Linked DNA regions of Homo sapiens: region 2 is linked to region 1. The links come from fine-mapping of genetic effects on gene expression. Tissue or cell type: whole blood. Region 1 holds a variant in brackets; the other region holds the start of a gene. All regions are shown on one strand. Distances are from middle to middle.

Region 1 (6,294 bases):
GCTCTTCACTGGTTTTAGCCAGGTAGGCACTGGGTGAGGGCTGATCCTTGTAAACAGTTGAAATGTATTACTGAGGCCAGGGCCGGGCAGGCCCATTGCTTCACGTGCCCTGTGCCACCTATTCTGCACAATAGCCCTGCAAGACATCATTACCCCATGATAGATACAGATGTTAGAGCTTCCTCATGGCTTCCTGCTCTGGTTCTCAAAGCACCCATGGTTGAGCACACTCACTGTCTGTGTAGCGAGTGGTCTTCCCTTCATTCTCCCACTGTCTCACTCTCCACCACCCACCACTCACTCCCCAGTCCTGCTCCCACACAATGGCCCTGTCTTCCTCTTCTTTTAACCAACTTCCTTTTCACCCTAACATGTAAGGCCTGTGTGTATATATGCTTGTAGCCTCTCTATCTAAGGTGTATATGAAATAGTGCTCAATTAACAAATATTTAGTGAGCTAGGCATTGCTCAGGCACTGGGAATACCAGAATAAACAAAATAGGCACAGACACTGGCCCCATAGAGGGAGAGTGAAAATATGCACCTACCAAAGCAATATATAATATGAAGTCAAGCAGTGTTAACTACTATGAAGAAAAATTCAGTGGAGTAAGAAGCTGAGAGATTCAAGGATGCTCTTTTAGCTCTGCGTGTGTGTGTATGTGTATGTGTGTGTATGTTTGTGTGTGTATGTGTGTGTTTCTGCAAGAATGTTTGTTTCTCAGAGTCAGTTAGCACAGTTGATTTGAAAAAAACCCTTAATGCGAGACCATCTTTCAAGTGCAAACCTCGTTTGAGGATGGCATTCAGAGTGCCCGAGATCCTGTCTCCCCCGTGTCGTTTCCCACCTTATTCTCCAGCCTTTCCCCATGCAGGCCAGACTTTTCACACCTGAGGGCCTTTGCACATATCATTTTCTCAACCTCAGATGTCCATTACCCGTGATGGACAGCCTGCGCACCTGTGTGGCCTGGCTGAGACTCCACCACCCACATTTCTGTGGTGCCTGGTCCCTCCAGGTGGACCCATCCATCTTCAAGCATTACATGAGAAGGATCAATACAGCTGTGGCCCAACACCTCCCTACCCCACACCCCCATTCTACAGGCAGGCAAACCGAGTCCCAGATGGCTGAGTGACCTGTCCATGTTCACACCACTGGTGAGCAGCCGGGGCTGGACCAGTGGCTTGTACACTCACAGCCCTGTCCTGAGCCTGTGTTAAAGCCGGCACTCTATTTTTCTGGTGTCATATCAGCTGCTCACATGTCTGTCCCTCACTCCATGCCCTACATCCCCTTGTTCCAGGGTCCGGCTTGCAGTCAGCACTTTTACCATGGGAATGCATGCCTTAGTTTAGCCCACCTTCCCTGGGAAAAAGAGCTGGATATACACACAACATACCCATGTCTCAATTGTCTGGTATGCAAGTGATATGACATATTTGTGTTAATAAATTTGTGTCTTATATGCATTTGTGTGCAGGCAGTCACTCAAACTGGGACACTTTTGATCTAAATAAATACTAAGGTGGATCCTTGGACAACTGGCAAAGCCAGGACTGTCAGATAAATGGTCCCCTTGGGCCTAGCATAGTGGCAGAAGAGTCATATACCTAGCTTTGAATCCTAGCTCTTCTAATTGCCAGTAGTGGCCTAGTGCAAGATCCTGCCCTTGTAAAAGAAGATAAATACAAGCTGGCCATTATGAAGTGCTTTCTGTTGCCAGAAACTGTTCTCAGCACTCATTCTGGTAAGCACTTTATGGCTGGTAACTCAATTAATTCTCCCAACAATCTGACATGTATTATTTTTATAAGATGCGATTATTATAATGTCCATTTAACTTGTGAGGATATTGAAGCTCAGAGGAGTTAAGTAACTAACCAAATGTCACCTGGTTAGTAAATGGGAGGATCTGAATTCCAGTCTGATTCTGGAGTCTATGCTCCTGGCTTCGACACCTCCTTACCTTTCAAAGAACTCACCTTAGAGGAGATCAGAGAATAGGAAAAGAGATAAGGGGAGTAAAACAGTGCCTGGAACACAGTCTGACACCTGTAGATGCTCACTGTTATTACTAGTATTTTTAAAGCATACGTCTGTGTTTGCTGGCTGTGGGCTGGTTCATGTCTGAGAGGTGTGGACCAACAGCAGGACTTTGCCCAGAGACCTGGCCGAGATGGGCTAAGTGAAAGGTGGAGGGCACTGGGTCCATTCACTAAAATACATTCCTATCTGTTCACTGGCTGTTCATTTCCAAGCAGGGGAAAAACCCTCGGTGCCTCTATTTTGTGCACACACTGCCCTCTGCCATTGGTCCTGGATACTGCACTTTCTACCCCTGTGACTCTGGAGGAAAGACTTCCCTACAGCAGAGAGGGCGTGGGATGACCCTAGACAGGCTCTGCGCCCCTCGCGGAGCTGCCAGTGGGAGGGGATGCTGTTTCACTCCCTGGCATGCCCAGGCTGGCCCCAGCCTCTGTGTTGCCTGGGTCTGACTCCTGTCTCCTCTTCCTCTCCTCTCTGGCCTCTCCTCTTACAGGAAGGAGGAGGGGGCAGGGGCTGATGCTGCCTGCTGCCTGAACCTCCACACCTCTTATTAGAGAACCTGAGGCCTTCAGACAGCTTTTCCTGAAAATCTTGGTGCTGATCCAGAGGTCCTTGGAGTGAGGGCCCCCATGACTCAGCTGAGACCCCCTCTCCTAAGCCCTGCCTGCACAGTGTGCAAACCCCTCCCTCCTCTGAGAACTCTTTCTTTCTCAGGCAGTAGATGAGCCAGGCATGGAGGCACTGGCAAGGCACAGCCAGGGGGCTCCATAGGAAGAAAGGCCTGAGAGAGGAACACAATCTGGAAAGGCTTCCTGGAGGAGG[C/T]GGTAACAGGGATGTGAATTGTTGGAGACAGGGAGCTTGTTAAAGACTGCTTAGGTCCCATTTGGCAGCTGCTCTGGGGTTTGAGCCGCCCTTTGCCAGCTGTTTCCAATCTCCATCTCAGGGGCTCTGCCACTTCTGCCACCTATAGAGTGGCAACTACACAAAGGACAATTGTTCTGCACTGCCCCTCAGTTCTTACATTCACATTTAGCAAAGCTTCCAGGAGCACCAGAGATGTTGAGGGTCCCTCCTCTCCTGCAAACCAGCTGCCATTGGCTTGTCCATCCCTCCTCCCCGGTAAGTCGTCCACGCTGCATCCCCGTTTGGATGCAGGCCCCTCTTAGAGGGCTTATCCTCGAAATCCCTCCTTCTTGCTTCCAATTCGTCCATCTCCAGGAGAGATTCCAGATTCTTCTTCCTGGAACTCCAGATGCAGCTCAAGTTCTAGATTAAAGCTGCTCCGAGCTCAGGAACTGAACCATAGCGTGGTGGATATAGGACTGAAAGGGACCTTAGAAGTCCAGTGTGGAGGTACACACATTTTGCAGTCGGCCAGGTGTGGATCTGAATCCTTTTGTTGATTTGTTTCTTTTCCCAGTTATAACTGCAATGTGGGCAACTCAGTTTCTCTGCTCAATTTCTCTTTCCTCACTTGTAATGTGGGAAAAACAAGAGTATTTACCTGACAGGTTGGTGTGAGGATGAAATGAGTTAAAATGTGCAAAAAGCTTAGCACAGTGACTAGTGCAAAGCAAGCCTCGTCGAACCTGAGGCACACCTGCCAGGCTAGCTTCTGGCTCCGTTCCAGTCCCATTACATTCTCCTCCAGCCTCCCAGCCCACATCCATTTCCAGAAGGTTCTCTCTTCCTGGAAGGGCTGCTGGTTCCTCTGAGCCTTCTCCTTGGCCCCCTGTTAAAACATGCAGCCCCCACCCTTGCTCCACGCTGCCCCTGTTCCTCTTCCCTGAAATAGGAGCCACCAGGACCCAGGACCTGCTTTCACCGGTTCTCACTTCCAGACGGGTTTCCCCATGATGTGAGTCATTCTCCCCAACTCTTGGATCTGCAGACTCCTGGCTTATTTCATAACCTGCCTCCTGAACCCACAGCTGTGTGTCCAACCTGATAGCCCTGCATAAGACACCACTTGCCTCAGCGGGGGCCCATGACAATGGGAAGATGGAGACTTGGTCTCCTGGTGTCAACATCTCCTGCCTCCTTTTCTGTAGGAGAGGGGGATAGAACTTTCCAAAGGGGCTGGCTGTGGTCTTGGCTCCAGATGGAGGAGCTCACTCTCTGACCCCGAGGCTCAGGTGCCAGCGTCAAGCCTGCCCTAGGCCCCACGGACCCAAGCCTCTAATTCCATGGCAGGTCTGCATCGGTGGGGTGGTGCTGAGGGTCCCTCACCCCACAGCAGTGAGAGGTTCCCTGTATCCAGCAGGCCAACCATCCCTTCCACCCGCAGGGTGGGGCTGCATGGATGTGTCTCCCATGGAGCTCTGAAAGGCTCATTTCAGCCCCCTGCCCCAGCCTCGGGGTTCATCCTCCATTCTCTCTGTTTTTAGCCCTTCCCTCAGCAGCAACTTCCCCTCCTCATTGACCCAGCCTTCCCTAGCTCCTTTCTCTAAAGTCTCCACTTCTTCTATTTCTTCTTGATGTGCTACTTTTATGTTTCTTCCTCCCAATTTCCACATTGCCTATGGTGGTCCAGGCCCCTAGTGCTTCTGCCCTGCCTGGTATCTCTTCCCTTCTCCTGTCCCTTCTTAACACCTTTCCCCAGGGCCCAGCAGGCTCAGATATGATGTGGGCCCAGGGAGGGAAGCTGGTCATTCCTTCCACACTGGAGGCAGTTGCCACCCCAGGCCTGACCCACCACTCCAGCACTCCCCAGGGACGGTGCAGGGCTGGGCTTCTCCTTCCTGTTTGGATGGATTGTATGATGCTCTGATGATGGGAGATAGAGAGCATGTCATTAGTGATGATGTGGCTTAATTACAGCCCAATGCACAGCCTGCTTGTTTGCTTTGCAAATGGGCAGAGGAAGAGGTGGATCAAGCATCAAACTTCACAGTGAAGATCAAAAGATTAAGGCATTTCCCCCAGCCTCCCTGTTGTCTTTCAAAAATGAATCCTGTAATAAAGGGGGTTGGGGTGTCAGACAATATAAATTTCTTCCTGAAGTGGCTGGAGGGGAGGTGGAGGGGGTCTGAGGTAAGGAGATGGATTAAATAGTGCCCAGATGGGGGCCTAGTGGAATTTTAAAATGAACAAATGGAAGAAATGTGTCCTTCCCAGGGCAAGACAGTGCTTGTCTTCACATACCTATGTGCACTGGAGCTGAGAAAAGTTCCCTGTGATGACTAGGTAGGTGGTGGGTAGAGTCGTAAAGAGTTCAAAGAGCTTTTCTTTAAAAAAAAAAAAAAAAAGAGGAGAGAAAGAGAACTAAAGAGTGTTTGATCTACAGTAAGTGGCTAGGGGCCTGTTCCATCATAAAAACCTTAGGAGCCCGAGCAGGGAGAGAACCAAGAATGGAGGAGCTTGGAGAGACAATCCAGGAGGTGCTGAAGACAAAAGGATACTCAGGCTGGAACAATGAACAGTAGTCCGCGGATCCCCAAGCCAGAGAAAAGCTAGGCGGGGCAGAGTTCCTGGTGGACAAGCCCTTGGGGGTTCCAGTGATGAGGGAGCTGGGAGACCACCACTTTTCCCCAGGGATCAGAGAGGAAAGACCCTGGGAACTGGCAGACAGATCTCAGGCAGCCCTGGAGAAGGAGGCAAGTACTCGGGGAAGCCAGGAGGCTCCCATGACCCTTTGTGCAGGAGGACAGCTCTGACCAGAGGCTCCAACTCATCTGTGGAACGTGAGCCCATCCCCAAGACTTAGGCAAGCTACCAGGGCAGCCCTGGAGGGGCGTGCAGGTTGTGCTGAGCACTAAGTCTCAGTGCGGGGGAAGTAGAGGCTGAAATCCAGCCATGCACCCTGGGAAAGGGCTGCGTCTGCCCAGAGGAAGGGGTGCCTTTTTCTCATGATTGGCATAAAGGCACCATATGGCCCTGCAACCACTTGGTTAAACTGCTCTGATGTTTCTCTCTCCAGGTGGGAAGGGTGGAGCATGCCCCTCCTGAGCTGGGCTGCAGCAGAGAGGAGGGAGACACCCATGCTGGGAAGACGTGGGGAAGGTCCTAGACTCAGAGAAGGGTGTCTGCAGAGATGCAGCTCCCCCACGTTTACCCCGAGAGGTGCAGGTAGAAAGTTCCATAAGACTAGCAGTGATAAGGAAACTGCCAGGTTTCAGGTCACTAAACATCCTCTGCTAAGTGTTTAATAAATAGAGGCTTACTGCACAATATGCTCTACACTAATATGACACCAAGAAATGGGAATTTTGACCATGCTGACTGCCTGTCTGGGATTTCACTCA
Region 2 (5,631 bases), 37 kb before region 1:
GGGCAGTTGGGGCACCTCATTATAGCCTGGTGAGTGTGAAGGTCTAGGCCTCACACTCAGCTTTTGCTGATGTGGGTGTAGGTGAAACCATAGTATTTTCTGTGTGTTGAGATGGAATAGAGTGATTATTCTCTGTAAGTTTTCCATCTTGCTAGGCTGCCCCTTTCCTGATGATGTGGCTACAGAGATCAAGCTTTTGTTTAATCTTTAAAAATCTGAGCCTTTCCAGATTCCTGCCTTCTTCTGCCCCAAGTCTGGAATATAGGAGACAAATAGAAAACCTAGAGAAATAATCATCATGTCTTTCACTGGGTCCTGAGGTCCCTGTTGGTGTGCCTTCTTCTCTACGCTTCAGAGTCTTCTTATGTTTGTGAAGAAGGGAAAAGTATGTCTACTTCATCTTTCTAGTTGTGGAATATCCACATAGGGAATACTGATTTCACAATATTTATTTGATTGCCCCTGGGGGTGACAGAAAGTTGATTTCCTGCCTGTCTCTCTCTCTCTTTCTCTCTCCCCCCCCCCCCCTTTCTTTCTCTCTTTTCTGAAACCATCAGAAACTCTTGCCCTAGTGTCTGGGCAGAGGCTAATGGCAGGACAGCCCCACTGTGGGAAGTGGGGCTGACTTGGTAATTGGGTTCATCTGGCATTGAGTTTCCCCTGGTGAGGGCAATATAAGGGATGTGAAATATAAGGAGCTCACTGTGTGAAAACCCACTTAGAGGCATTTCAATGACAGGTGCTAGGGATACTGTTCTTAGGGAGAATGATTTCAAAGGGCACCTAAGAGTTTTTTAGCCTAGTCCATGACTGCCTGAGAGTCCTTTGCCACTGGAGTTCTGGGAAGTGAGTAGAGAGGACCAAAGGGAGGATAGGACCTGGATCTTGTCCTCAGGAAAATTTCTGGCCGTTAGGAAAGATTGACATACCTCCTGAACACAGGTAGAGACATCAAATTAGAAGAGACAATTGACATAATAGATGCTGTTGTTTGGACAACAAACAACATGTGGGAGGCTGGGAAGAGAGGTGTGATTGGATTAGGAAAGTGATCAGAGAAGGTTTCCGGAAGTGCCTCTGTGGCAGGTTCACAAGATGAGAAGGCCAGGGAGGGGAGGGGAAGTGAAAACCATAAGGAGAGGGGCTGTTTGCTCGTAAGCACATCCACGCCATACTGCAGAGTTGGCATTCACAGCATAAATGCCATTGGGGGTTATCTCAGGGCCTGTGACATGCAGCAATTTGTAGTTTTGCTGAGATGCAGGCCTGAATCACCTCCACCCCAGTGCTGGTGTGCTGAAATGAGCCAATTAGGGAGTGATTCTGGCTGGAATACTAAGCATTCTCATCACAATGCAGTTTTGTTGGTCTTCTTTGTGCCTTACAAAGAAACTTACAAAGGAATAGAAACTTTGGGTCAGGTGCGGTGGCTCACGCCTGTAATCCCAGCACTTCGAGAGACTGAGGCGGGCAGATCACCTGAGGTTGGGAGACCGAGACCAGCCTGACCAATATGGAGAAACCCCATTTCTACTAGAAATACAAAATTAGCCGGGCGTGGTGTTGCATCCCAGCTACTCAGGAGGCTGAGGCAGGAGAATCCCTTGAACCCAGGAAGTGGAGGTTGCGATGAGCCGAGATCATGCTATTGCACTCCAGCCTGGGCAAGAAGAGTGAAACGCCATCTCAAAAAAAAAAAAAAAAAAAAAGAAAAAAAGGAATAGAACTTCATGTTAGCTAAAAAAGATTAAAGGACTTCCAAGTGGCATTGCCTTTAGTGAAATTGAAGACATCAAAGAAAATGATTATTCTTAACTAGAAAACAACCATATTGTATAAAACAGAGGGGAGGTTGAATTTGGCAATTGCTTAGTACAACAATTTTAGAGGCATATCATAACCTCTATACAGAAATAGAAAAGAAGGATGGGCCAACTGTTCATTCAAGTACTCCAGCTAGTGAAATACTTGTGTTTTTATGGAGGAAATTCTATACTATGGATATATTTGGGATTTGGGATTTGGGAAACTCTTGGGTCACATACTTTGGCAATGTCAAGGATCCATGAAATTCAAATGTCTTCCCCTACCTCCCCATCTCCAAAATTGTGAGCTAGGTTTGGTCTTCATAATTCGGGACCCAAGAGCCTAGCACAGTACCTGGGAGAGAGTCAGCCCTCAAGAGAAGTCTGTTAAACGAATGGATAAATGAATGAACAAGTAGATGGCTGGCTGGCTGGTTGGACGGATAGATGGACGAATGAATAAGGCGGGCATAGCTCTGAATGTGGAGTCAGAAGACCAGCCAAGGGAGTCCTCAAGGCTGGGGCCTGTGCTTTTTGGGGGCATTTTCATTCTCTGGGATTCACACAAAGAAAGGACTCACTAAATGTTTGCTAAAGGAATGACATCCTCAATTATCTGAACCTTGGTTTCCCCATTTGTGTAATGTGGATCATCACCATTCCCCTCCATGCAGACTAAGTGGATTAAATGAGCTTCTTGTGTGAGGAGCTCTGTTACACTGTAAAGTGCTGCACCAGTGTCAGCCATCGTGAATGGTGCAATGACCATAATTTCAAGGTCAAGAGTCAGGGTAGTGGGATGGTAAAGGGAAAAAGAAGTCAGTGTGTGCAAAGGAAGGTGAGCAGGGCAGCCCGGCTGGCACAGAGGAGCAGGAGAGCTGCCTGGGAGGGCACAGCAGGGGGCTGGCAGCCAGAGGCTGGTCCTGGATTCCCAGTGTGCTCCTCTCCTATGGCCCTGGCCAGCCATCAAACCTGTCTCCAGGAACTCTGGGAAGCCAGGCAGCAGCAGCCTCTTCTTAACCACATAAAAGCAGCTCAGCCAGGGTCCCTGAAGCAGCCCATCTGATGCTGGCATGGTTGTGAGATTTCTAACAGATGACACTGTCAATTAAAGGTCTCCCCTCTGTACCCCTACAATCCCAGGCCCCACCACTCCCTGGGGAACAGCAATTGAGACTGCGACAAACCTCCCACCTAAGATCTTTCTATGGATAATGTGCCCATGCTAATTACACATGTTCATTAGATAAAACTCAAATTACATGAGCAAGACTTGCAAGACTAGCACTTTGGGAGTTTTCAAGTCATTTACCTGGTGTCTGATTTTGCTGGGAGAAAATGATTTCTTGCTTCCAGGCAAACTGAACCCACAAATTAGGCCCATGGCTCCCTCTTGAGTCCTATAAAGTGGGAGCCCAGGATCACAGGCTGGTGAACTGCATCTCAGCTAAGGGTCAGCATCTTATCCCCACTTTCTGGCCTCCCCACCATGAGCCGCCAATTCACCTACAAGTCGGGAGCTGCTGCCAAGGGGGGCTTCAGCGGCTGCTCCGCTGTGCTCTCAGGGGGCAGCTCATCCTCCTACCGAGCAGGGGGCAAAGGGCTCAGTGGAGGCTTCAGCAGTCGGAGCCTTTACAGCCTGGGGGGTGCCCGGAGCATCTCTTTCAATGTGGCCAGTGGCAGTGGGTGGGCAGGAGGCTATGGATTTGGCCGGGGCCGGGCCAGTGGCTTTGCTGGCAGCATGTTTGGCAGTGTGGCCTTGGGGTCCGTGTGTCCGTCGTTGTGCCCGCCCGGGGGTATCCATCAGGTCACCATCAACAAGAGCCTCCTGGCACCCCTGAACGTGGAGCTGGACCCTGAAATCCAGAAAGTGCGTGCCCAGGAGCGGGAGCAGATCAAGGTGCTGAACAACAAGTTCGCCTCCTTCATTGACAAGGTGGGTCTTTCTGGAGAAAGCTGATCTTGGGCTCCCCTTTTAAGGACTCAGGAGGGAGCCACTGCCCTAATTTGTGGTTCAATTTGCCTGAGAGCAAGAAATCATTTTCTCCCAGCAAAATCAGACACCAGGTAAACAACTTGAAAGCTCCCCAGGTGCTGGGCCCATAAGGCTTGCTCATGCCGTAGAGCCCCTTCCTTCCCCCGCCTTCATTGTCCTTGGGGTGCTCCCTGTCTGAAGCAGACGAAGGCAGGACACCTCCCCAGGATGCAGACATAGCCCAGGGAGGAACTGGACAAAGCCTGGACATCAGAGGCAAGGGACCAGGGTTGGAGGGGTGAGAGGAGCCAGCAGCCTAGCCCAGGAAGGTGTCCAGGAAGCAATGAGAGCGGTCTCTGAGTTGAGAAGTAGCAGAGTGACAGCCTGTGAGACTTAGAAGCTAGGCGAAGGAGATGCCCTTGACAGCCTGGGGCATCTAGACTGCCATGCGACCCAGCTGTTCCTCCTGTGTCCCCTGAAAGCTCAGACTCAGTCCGTAACACACACAGCCTATGAGGCAAGGCAGCTGGAGGTCACGGTGCCCTAGAGCAGTGGTTCTCAAAGGTGGCCCTGGAACCAGCAGCAGCAACGTCACCTGGACGCTTGTTAGAATGCACACTCTCAGGCTCCACCCCAGAGCAACTGAATCAGAGACTCTGCAGCAGGGCCCAGCACCCTGCATTTTAACAAGCTCTCCAGGTGATGCTGATGTACACTCAGGTTTGAGAATCACTGAGGAACAAAGTGGTAGGAAGGTATTGGGAAGCAGAGACTTCCTAAGCTTAGAGGAGCAGGGGAAGCTCACCCGGAGCGACAGTGAGGTAGGGTGGTGAGGCATGAGTAGGAGTTTTCAGATGGAGGTGGGGAAAAGGCAATCTAGGGAGACAGCACGTGCAGCATGGTAGAACTTGTCTGGGGAATGGGAGACCTTCGGTTTACGACATCACTGTATGAGTAAAGAAGGAAGCCAGGAGGGCTGGGCACATTATGAAGAGTGTGATAAGGAATATGGACTTGACCCTGAGGGTGATGTGGAACCACCTGAGGGTTTTAAGCAAGGGAATGATATATTTGTAGGTTGCAACTTGAGAATGCTTGTTCTGCTGCTGGGACAATGCTGTGATTGAGATAGTAGAGATTCAGACATGAAAGCAACTTAGGAGGGCCGGAGACCCCAGATAAGCTGAACATCTGCCTCTGGCTGGGCTGGGAGAGCCCACGCACAAGGAGGGAGAGACTAGGCAGAGCACGGGCCACCAGACCCCGAGCAGAAGGCCTGACAGTGTGAAGGCTAGCACAGGCCAGCTTGTGTCTAAGGGGCTGCCTTGGAGAGGTGGCCTGGACTGAACATGGACATCGGTCCAGGCAGGTTTGGATAAGTGCAGAGGAGACAGGAGATCTAGATCTTGATAGTTTGAGAGGGAAATGAAGACATTGGTGCCCCTCCCAACCTTAAGGGCTGCCTCAGAGTGAGAACTTCAGTCAGATAAAGGACCCTAGGTAAGGAGTGGGGGTGTGAGTGGCATGGGTGGCAGTTTTTAAGGGCTGAGGCTCATTTTTAAAGCTAATGTAGCATAAGAAAACACAGTTCCTGTCCAGGAAGGGAATTCTCACATCCCCTCTCCACATTGCTTAAGTATGTGTGGCATGGGTTCCAGGTGCGGTTCCTGGAGCAGCAGAACCAGGTGCTGGAGACCAAGTGGGAGCTGCTACAGCAGCTGGACCTGAACAACTGCAAGAATAACCTGGAGCCCATCCTTGAGGGCTACATCAGCAACCTGCGGAAGCAGCTGGAGACGCTGTCTGGGGACAGGGTGAGGCTGGACTCGGAGCTGAGGAGCGTGCGCGAAG

What was found. PIP is the estimated chance that this variant, and not a neighbour inherited with it, causes the effect.
Region 2: it holds the start of KRT73, and the variant in region 1 is fine-mapped to the expression of KRT73 in whole blood (INTERVAL, PIP 0.98).

Annotation. Positions count from the first base shown.
Region 1 is chr12:52,579,200-52,585,493 of GRCh38, reverse strand. No RefSeq gene overlaps it. Among named protein-coding and RNA genes, the nearest start is that of KRT74, 8.5 kb to the right of the region's middle. RefSeq lists a cis regulatory region at 371 and an enhancer at 287-456. The variant C/T (reference allele first, on the strand shown) is at 2,873.
Region 2 is chr12:52,616,188-52,621,818 of GRCh38, reverse strand. It overlaps KRT73 (keratin 73), which reads left to right and starts at 3,260. Exons shown (of 9, transcript NM_175068.3): 1 at 3,260-3,741; 2 at 5,439-5,631. The coding sequence starts at 3,295.